Linked DNA regions of Homo sapiens. The protein of the gene in region 1 interacts with the protein of each later gene in a pairwise test. Each region holds a gene or a part of one and is shown in the gene's direction. Other genes may lie near its edges. The genes, in order: TDRD7, DLC1 and MLH3.

Region 1 (2,424 bases):
AATTTATGTTCTTCTGCCATGGCTTCAGCCGGTCCCTCCATTTGGGGTTCCTGACTTCCCACAACACCAGTGAGTTGTTGCTTCATTACATCTGGCCTTGACCTGGGCATTCTTTGCATCAGTGCACCATGGCCATGCACAAAATTTTCTGAATCCTAGAAGAAAGGGAGCCATACTGTGGAATCATCTTTTACCTTACCAATGGGTTACCTTTTTTCTTCTTAAATAACATGGCTCAAAGATTGTCAGGGCTGCTGCAGATAAAATGAAATTTCTAGGCTTCTCTTGTGGGAAATAAATAATCAAAGAATTTAGCCCATTTGCTATATAGATAGCAAGTCTTCCAAAATTATGTCTGAAATTTCCATATCTTAATTACTTTGGGGCATAATTTACAGTTTATGTAATCCAGTATATGTGGACTTAATTGTATTTCTTGAAATATGTATATATATATGTATATATATATATATATATTTTTTTTTTTTTCGAGAGGGTCTCACTTTGTCACCCAGGCTGGATGGAGTACAGTGATGCAGTCACGGCTCACTGCAGCCCTGACCTCCCAGGCTCAAGCGATCCTCCTCCCTTAGCCTCCTGAGTAGCTGGGACTATAGGCACAGGCCATTACACCCGGCTAATTTTTGTATTTTTTGTAGAGACAGGGCTGGGCTATGTTGCCCAGGCTGGTCTCGAACTCCTGAGCTCAAGATACCTGCCCGCCTTGGCCTCCCAAAGTGCTGGGATTACAGGTGTGAGCCACTGTGCCCGGCCAATGTGTACTTTCTTGTCCCAGTTTTGTTTTAAAATCGAATTTAGAATTCTCTAACTTGATTTCTCATGATCTGATCCAATCAGGTTCTTTTATCATAGGTGAGATCAGCTGATTTGCCTAAGACCACACCACCCGATAGAGGAAAAGCTGGGAATAGTAACTGAGTCTGTTGACTTTCAATTCAGTGCTTTTCCCACGATGCTGTGTATAATTTTAAATAACTATACTGTAAATGAATCATACAATAATTCTTTTTTTTTATGATATTTGGTCCATCAGAAAAAAAATTTTTAATGAAAGAAATGTCATTTAATATGATATTGATATTTTATTCTGTTATTAGTTTAAATATGCATATACTTTATGGGGGTTGTACAGTAGTCATTATTACCTCATTTTATAATACAATGTTAAGTCTCAAATGAAACTTGTTTTTTAGTTAAAGATTTCCAGAGTGACTCCATTCAGAGTAGAAAAACTATAAGCTGGAGTGTTTTAAGATTGTTCAGTAACCGTTTTTCAGTTCAGGCAAGTCTAACCTGGGATGCTTAAGTTACTTTGGAATTGACTAAATAATTTTCCATCATAATGGATCAAAGAAAAGCTCCTTTGACTCCTCACTGCTCCCTCTTCTTCCTCTCTTCCTCCTAGGAGTGAAGTGCAACCAGTGGTCTGAGGAGGCTTCTATGGTGTTTCGAAATCATGTGGAGAAGAAACCTCTGGTGGCACTGGTGCAGACAGTCATTGAAAATGCTAACCCTTGGGACCGGAAAGTAGTGGTCTACTTAGTGGACACATCGTTGCCAGACACCGATACCTGGATTCATGATTTTATGTCAGAGTATCTGATAGAGCTTTCAAAAGTTAATTAATGACTGCCTCTGAAACCTTGACAACTAATTCAGATTTTTTAGCAATAACAAAATGTAGTAGGCTTAAAAAAAATCTTAACTCTGCTACATGGCTCTGACTGCTGTGGGGGATTGAAAAGAATATGCTTATGTTTGATGAAAGATATTTAACAAGTTTTGTTTTAACAGAGTTGACTTTTCAAAGAAAATTGTACTTGAATTATTACTATAATATTAGAATAAAAATGTTTATCAATATAAAAGCTGACTACCTTTTAATTTCTAGGCTTCATGATCTTAAGATGAAAGCTTCCGTTTCATGTTGTCTTCCTTGCAGAGCTGGGTTCTTCTCCAGTGAAGCTGAGACTATTATGACTTAACTCTACCCTGATGTAGTAGTGTATCTCAAAGCAAGTGATCACCAAAGCATGTGAGGACTTATCCTGAGTCTTAACACATCAGCATTTCTAGAGGAGCAGCCCAGGCAAACCAACGTGACCCTCAACCCAAATCTTGAGTGGCTTCTCTTCTCATTGCCCACAGAGTCCAGCTAGGACCCAGGCTTTCTACAATCCTCCTACCCAACCTCCTTATCTACCACTCCCTGCCACACTGTACCTTTATTTGGTCACTGAACCCCTGCTTATTCCATTCTGTCAACCTGCATCTCATTCTCCTCCCATCATTTTTGCTTGTCAGTGTCCTGCCTGACCTCCTGGGCCAACCATGAAGCTTTCTCTGGTACCCCTTTCTACTCCATCGTACTTTGATCATGCCTCTCTTGGTGCCCATATGTCA
Region 2 (3,659 bases), on another chromosome or scaffold:
GAACCAAGCCTATATGTCACTGATCTTACAAGATGGTATAATTATTTAAAGTAGAGGCCGGGCATATGGTGGCTCACACCTGTAATCCCAGCACTCTGGGAGGCCAAGGTGGGAGGATCACTTGAGGCCAGCAGTTCAAGACCAGCCTGGGTAATATAGCAAGACCCTATCTCTACAAAAAAATTTTAAAAATCAGCTAGATGTTGTGGTGCATGCCTGTAGTCCTAGCTACTCGGGAGGCCGAGGCAGGAGGATCCCTTGAGCCAGGAGTTTGAGGCCGCAGTGAGCTGTGAGCATGCCACTGTACCGCAGCCTGGGCAACAGAGCAAGACCTTATTTCTGAATAAACAAAACAAAACATATGCTTCCAGAAAAGTAGTGAACACCTTCAAATATGGAAAACAGATCTACATTTATTCTAGCAGTGTGTTCCTCGCTGAGAATGGTCTGAACTCTTTGGTAACTGAGCTCAGAAAGAGAGGCCCCTTCCAATGAATATGCTCATTCGTAGCAGATTTTTGCCCCTTTTAGGATAGATTTTCTTGTCAGAAACAGCTAGTGAATGAATAAGCCAGGAAATAACATTTGAGTCCCAAGGGAGATGTGGTTAAGGCTGATGTATGTGTAATTCATAAATTCTCTGGAGATATTACTGAAAGAAGAATTCCAAAAATCTTTGTGGAAATGTCACATTGGAAGTCCAGACCTTTTCAAACAGCCAGCGCTCCTTTAGGTGTCTGTGTTCCAAGACATTTGTGAAATAGAAAAATGGTTTTAAGCTACACTTCAAATGGGCTCTTTTTTCAAAGAGGAGACTGTCTGAGCACATAAACCCTCTGTAACAACGGCTCTGTACAGAGTTCCTCATTCAGCAGTCCTTGTACAGTGTCTTCGTGCATGTAATGCTGCTCTAACAGAATCTCACAGACCAGGCAATTATAATGAACAGATATTTATTTGGCTCATGGTTCTAAAGGCTGGGAAGTTCAAGATCAAGTAGTTGCATCTGGTTAGTTGGTTGGTTGTTTGATTGATTTGGGGACATGGTTTCATTCTGTCACCAAGGCTAGGGTGCAGTGGCACACTCATGGCTGCTGAAGCCTTCACCTCCCAGGCTCAAGCAATCCTCCCCCCTCAGCCTCCCAAGTAGTTGGGACTGCAGGCATGTGCCATCACACCTGGCTAATTTTTTTGTTTCTGGTAGAGACATGGTGTCACCATATTGTCCAGGCTGGTCTCAAAACTCCTGGGCTCAAGCGATCCTCCTACCTCAACCTCCCAAAGCGCCGGGATTACAGGCATGGGCCACCCACCATGCCTAATGAGGGTCTTTTTGCTGTGTCATCCCATAGTGGAAGGGCAAAGAGAGGGCAAGGGAGAGCAAAAGAGCAAATGTGCAGCCTCAAGCCATTTTTATTTTTATATTTATTTATTTTGAGATGGGGGGGTATCACTTTGTTGCCCAAGTTTGAGTACAGTGGCATGATTACAGCTTAAGCAATCCTACCATCTCAGCCCCCGGAGTAGCTGAGACTACAGGAGCACACCACCATGCCCGGCTAATATTTTTTATTTTTAGTAGAGATGAGGTATCACTATGTTGTCCAGGCTGGTCTTGAACTCCTGAGCTCAAGCAGTCCTCCCTCCCCAGCTTCCCAAAGTGCTGGGATTACAGGCGTGAGCCATGGAACCCAGCCTTAAGCTCTTTTATAATTGGCATTAATCCAGCTCCCATTAGGCCCCACCTCCCAACACTGTTGTATTGGGCATTCACTTTCCATCACATGCTTTTTGGGGAACACATGTACACCATAGCAAGTAGTTTAGAGGATGCCATTTACCTAGGCCTGGGTCACACAGCATGGCCACTGAGCCTGACCCGTCACCACACTGCAAATAGTGAAGAGTGAAGCACGATTTTAAACTTGGCTTCTATGAAATTCCATCATTTCTGCCTCTGGTTTTGTCTCTACAGAACCTGGAGGACTAATTTACCCAAAGGAGCCTGTGCCCTTTTACTAACCTCTGTGGATCACGATCGCGCACCTGTGGTGGGTGTGAGGGTTAATGTGCTCTTGTCCAGGTATTTGATTGAACCCTGTGGGCCAGGAAAATCCAAACTCACCTACATGTGCAGAGTTGACTTAAGGTATGTTCTGATTCTGATTTTTTTATATGGTGAGGGTCATGAAGGAAATTCTGACTTTTTGTCTAATGCAAAGAATGCCTTAAACAAACACGTCATTTTTTCTTGGTGACTTCATGAAGAATGGTGTTTAGAAAGTAGCATTTCATGTTTGTTGGTCTTTCAGCGACCACTTCGTAATTTGGTTCCCTTAGAAAATGTGGTTCTAAAGCAAAGCAAATATGGTAGCTCGGCCATGAATTCAAAGGCATGGGAAATGATAGATTTTATGCATTTGAACTAGCAAACAGATGTTTCTCATTTTATTTCCATGCTTTCTAACTTAAATAATTCATCAGCTTTTCTTTCTTTTCTCTGATAGGGGCCACATGCCAGAATGGTACACAAAATCTTTTGGACATTTGTGTGCAGCTGAAGTTGTAAAGATCCGGGATTCCTTCAGTAACCAGAACACTGAAACCAAAGACACCAAATCTAGGTGATCACTGAAGCAACGCAACCGCTTCCACCACCATGGTGTTTGTTTCTAGAACTTTTGCCAGTCCTTGAAGAATGGGTTCTGTGTCTAATCCTGAAACAAAGAAAACTACAAGCTGGAGTGTAGGAATTGACTATAGCAATTTGATACATTTTTAAAGCTGCTTCCTGTTTGTTGAGGGTCTGTATTCATAGACCTTGACTGGAATATGTAAGACTGTGCAAAAAAAAAAAAAAAATTTATGTGTATTCTTATTCAAATTGCTTCTGAGAAGCAAAACTCTTTAAATACATTATGGAAGATAATGAAGATACTTCATTCTCTTGTGATATCAGTGTATGCGTACCTGTGTCGCTTTATTTGCAGTGTGTTGAGGGACTGGTGTATCCACTGGAATAGTTGGTACTCTTGGATGTGTTTTCTCACCAAGATGAGCAAAGAAAGGTTTGCACAGAGGAGTGTGAATGTGTGTTTGTTGCTGGCTGAATGGCAATAGATGTCTAAGGTGGATTCAGTGTCTGGCACACTGAGACACCTCCAAGAAGGAGATTGATGCATCAGGTTCAGTTTAACCTGGAATATCTGACTACCCCTGAATCCACCCAGAAAGGGGGCCCAACACCCTTGTCCATTTATGGGTATTTTTTTTCGAAGTTATTAAGCATATTCCTTTTCCACGAACCTCTTCTGTACTTTGATTGTAATAGGTTGGCTCTTACACCCATTCCAAATGCAGTTTATTTTTAGACCCGATTGCAAATAGTGATGTAGTTTTAACCAGTATGGATTAGTTCAGGGATGAACTGCTCCCTCTAGCCTTACTGGCTCTGATCCACAGGGTTTTGTTTTGTTTTGTTTTGTTTTTTGTTTAAGTCGAGATATAAAAACTGAACACGATAACACTTACTCTTAAATCAAGCATCAACACTTTTTCCCTGTTAGAATTCTTTGCATTTTTGTGTTTGTAACAGAAACGCCTTAAGACACTATGTTTGGGAATATAGGAAACTATGTGTGTCCCAAGGAAATCCCTGT
Region 3 (3,659 bases), on another chromosome or scaffold:
AGGCAGAGCCTGCAGCAATCCATGCCTCCCTGTGAGCCACCATGAGAACAGAATCACTGGTCTAAAAGGAACAAAGGGATGTTCACTGTATGCCTCTGAGCAGAGAGCAGCAGCAGCAGGTACCAGCACGGCCCTGACTGAATCAGCCCAGTGTCCCTGAGCAGCTTAGACAGCAGGGCTCTCTGTATCAGTCTTTCTTGAGCAGATGATTCCCCTAGTTGAGTAGCCAGATGAAATTCAAGCCTAAAGACAATTCATTCATTTGCATCCATGGGCACAGAAGGTTGCTATATAGTATCTACCTTTTGCTACTTATTTAATGATAAAATTTAATGACAGTTTGATTGGTTGCTTGGTTTGTTATTTGAAGGGTGTGATTTTTGTTTTTGTACAGTTTTTTTTCAAGCTTCACATTTGCGTGTATCTAATTCAGCTGATGCTCAAGTCCAAGGGGTAGTCTGCCTTCCCAGGCTGCCCCCAGGGTTTCTGCACTGGTCCCCTCTTTTCCCTTCAGTCTTCTTCACTTCCCTATGCTGCTGCTTCATGTGCTACATCTCAGACTTAAAGAGTTTCTCTACTACAGTGAAAACATTCTCTAGGGTCTTTCATCAGGCCTTTAGTTATTTTAGGGATAAAAACTATTGATAAAAAGGACAAGGATAGAACAGAGAAAATTTAAAGTCCTGTTCCGGGTTTTTTGTTATGTTTTCTTTAAAAACTCAGAGACTGATGTTCAATATCCCAAACCAGTAAAATGGTGAAAATACTATGAGCTTGTTTTTTAAAATATGATTTTTTTTGGTACTTTATAAAGTATCTCTTTATGTGAAAGCAATTGTCATATCAAAACACAGCATACATACGTTCAACCTAACCAAATATCTTTACACTTTTTCTTTCAGGAGACAAGGGTTCTTTGGGTCCCTTTCAAACGGTATCTTGGTGTTATTACATTATGCCTATCTATTGCCCTTATAATATCACTTGGGACCAGGACTGATCGTTCTGCAAATGCTTGTTATGCCATTCTCAATCTATTTTTCCCGCACCTTTTCACATGATTTGTGGTTAATAGGACTCAACAGACTAAAATTGCATAGTAGAAAAAAAATGCAAAAAGCCAGCTGGTAATGTTTATTGCAACTGGGGTGCTATACAATTAGTAAGATGATGCAATGAGAATTTCTACTTTTGTATTTCCTGACCAGCCTGCTCAAAGTGGCTTTTATATCAATTGAATGATTTTCCTCATTTTTTAATACAGGAAACCAATTCGTGCTCATGGAAGAAAAGTTCCTTTGCCAGCAGCCTTGAAGTGAATCTTACAGGAGCAATGAAAGTATTGCATTCATTAGCGTCTGCCCCAGAGAAGGTTCAGAGAAAACCTTCACTTGTTTTCAAGGGGATCCTTGTAGATTTACGTAATTGGAATCCTGAAGAACAGGCCCTACTGTCTAAAAAATGGCTTTTATTCTTCTAAATACATATAAACGGATGTTTTATAGATGGGAAGACATGACCTTAGAAAGGAGAGAGTTTTCAGAGGATTTGCCAGGCTGTCAGGGGCTCTGCCTCCAGGCCCAGTGTGGCAGTGTGGCCTCAGGGCCTCCGCCTCCCTGCTTGAGGGCTGCATGGAGGCCAACTGTCCTGGGAGTTGTAAAAATCTTTTAAGGCCAGACCAATTTGAGGGATTTTAAAAAGTGTCTCAGTGCCTCTTATGATTTCAGAAGGTTTTGCTATATGTAATCCCAACTACTGTTTTCTTGAGAGTAGCAGAGGATTAGAAAAAGTCCTCCATAAATTATGTAACCGGCCTTCCTGACTAGCCTGACTCAAGCAATGTAAGAGATAATTATTCTGTTTTCATAATTTATAAGTGTGGGGGCATGCCTCAGCATAAAAACAACCTATTAGGGAAAAATATCTAATAGATTACCTTTATCGCCTGTTAGGGTTTTATGTTGTTTTTAACTCAGATGCCATAAGAACAAAGATACATGTAATTTATAATAGTAATCATTAATACCTATATTGTGCTTTAAGGTTTACAAAATAATTTTTCTCATACTTTATCTTAGTTTAGTTTCTTGACAGTCCATGAGGTAAGGTGGTAGCTTTATCACCATTTTACAAAGTGGGAAACGAAGGTTCCTCTTAGGAACCTAGTTGTCACCTTTGTATAATAAAACTTCGAAGCTCGGAGCTGTTAACTGGTTTGCTGAAGGCTTAGCTGTAAGAGCCAGAATTCAGACCCAGGTCTGAGTGACTTCAAACTGCACAGTCCTTCCCATTATTACCCATATGCTATCCCTTATATTTTTAATTTATTAGGAATTCATTCATTTATAAACTTGGTGATTCACCTTTATTAGATTCTGGTCGCTGAAGGCTTTAGTAACTTCAGAGTAAAACTTGAGAGATGAGATGTAAAATGCAGCCATTCTTGAGAGTTCCTTTTTCTGTAACATTCATCAACACTTCATTGAGAAGTGAAGGTTCCTATGGCTGTCTCTACCTTCAAGAGGCTTAGCTTTAGTCACTGAGAAAGACAAGGAAACTAATGATAGAATATAGTAGCTTCTTCTGGCGTTAGGTATCACAGAGTCACAGCTAGTTACAGCTAGCCCTTTATTATTGAAAGAAGAGGAGCTAGCAGTCCCACTATCAGAATTAAGACTAGAGATGGTAATAGGAGCTAGTATCAGAAAAGCTTAAGGCAAAGCATAAAGTGTAGGCTAGAATGAAGCTGGAGAATGGGGAGGGGGCTTGGGTAACATCCAGAACCTGGCTGGGGACCTGGAACTACATGAGATGTAAGAATGGAGAGGTTCTAGCAGTCAGAGGTCAGGTACAAATGAACAGCTGGGATCTGCGCATGGCAGACAGTGAAAAAACCCAGGCAAGCAAAATGGTCAGAGCAGAAAGGGGCCCAAGGCCACGTTCTTGAGATGTGGAGGGGGCTGAGGAAGCCACGCCAAGTAAGGACAGATGCAGCTCAGCAGTTCCTAGCGAGCCCTGACAAGCCAGCTCAGCTGAAGCTTCGGGTGGGAGCCAGTCATGGCACAGTGGAGTGAAGGAAGAGCAGTTTCAGGCACCCAAAACCTGACCCCCACGACCTGTTTTCCACCTGAAGAGCCACCCATTCCATCCAAACCCTTGGCAAAAGTCTGCTAACAGAGAGAACCGGCCAGTATGCTGGCCAGTCGCGATCATGCCTGTCTTTACCCTCTAAGCTGAAGCTGCTCATCAACGGTGAGATGGCAAAAAGGTGGGTCCAGAAGAGGGGAAAAGAAGGGAGTCTGTGAAAACAAAATGCTGAAGAATCTGCATCAAATAAACCCTTCCTTCCTTCCTTTTTCCTTCCATCCCTCTCTTCATTCAGCAAATCTTCAGTGAGTTCCTTTCTAAATGTATTGTATCAGAACTTGTGGGGGATATAAAGAAAAAAAAGAGGTTATCACATGGCTTAGGATGTTTCCAACCCTTGGATCATTTTCACCCCAGGCCCATTAGTTACAGAGCACTCAGTCTTACCCAGAAGCATCGGATATAGTCCAGGCAACCGGATCCAAGCGTGTGGGAATCGCAGTGTGCTGCATGTGGGAATCTATCAGGCCAGGATGATTCAAGCAGCAGCCTGCAGAAGTGGGATTTGGCCA

What was found.
Region 2: the proteins of TDRD7 (region 1) and DLC1 interact in a two-hybrid assay, tested with the Homo sapiens proteins (one large-scale study listed by BioGRID and IntAct).
Region 3: the proteins of TDRD7 (region 1) and MLH3 interact in a two-hybrid assay, tested with the Homo sapiens proteins (one large-scale study listed by BioGRID and IntAct).

Annotation. Positions count from the first base shown.
Region 1 is NC_000009.12:97,494,237-97,496,660, forward strand, and holds the end of TDRD7 (tudor domain-containing protein 7), read left to right. Parts: intron 1-1,426; coding exon 1,427-1,647; 3' UTR 1,648-1,889; downstream 1,890-2,424. UniProt on the Homo sapiens protein: Component of specific cytoplasmic RNA granules involved in post-transcriptional regulation of specific genes: probably acts by binding to specific mRNAs and regulating their translation.
Region 2 is NC_000008.11:13,084,780-13,088,438, reverse strand, and holds part of DLC1 (rho GTPase-activating protein 7), read left to right. Parts: intron 1-1,975; coding exon 1,976-2,149; intron 2,150-2,507; coding exon 2,508-2,628; 3' UTR 2,629-3,659. UniProt on the Homo sapiens protein: Functions as a GTPase-activating protein for the small GTPases RHOA, RHOB, RHOC and CDC42, terminating their downstream signaling.
Region 3 is NC_000014.9:75,013,468-75,017,126, reverse strand, and holds the end of MLH3 (DNA mismatch repair protein Mlh3), read left to right. Parts: coding exon 1-45; 3' UTR 46-3,352; downstream 3,353-3,659. UniProt on the Homo sapiens protein: Probably involved in the repair of mismatches in DNA.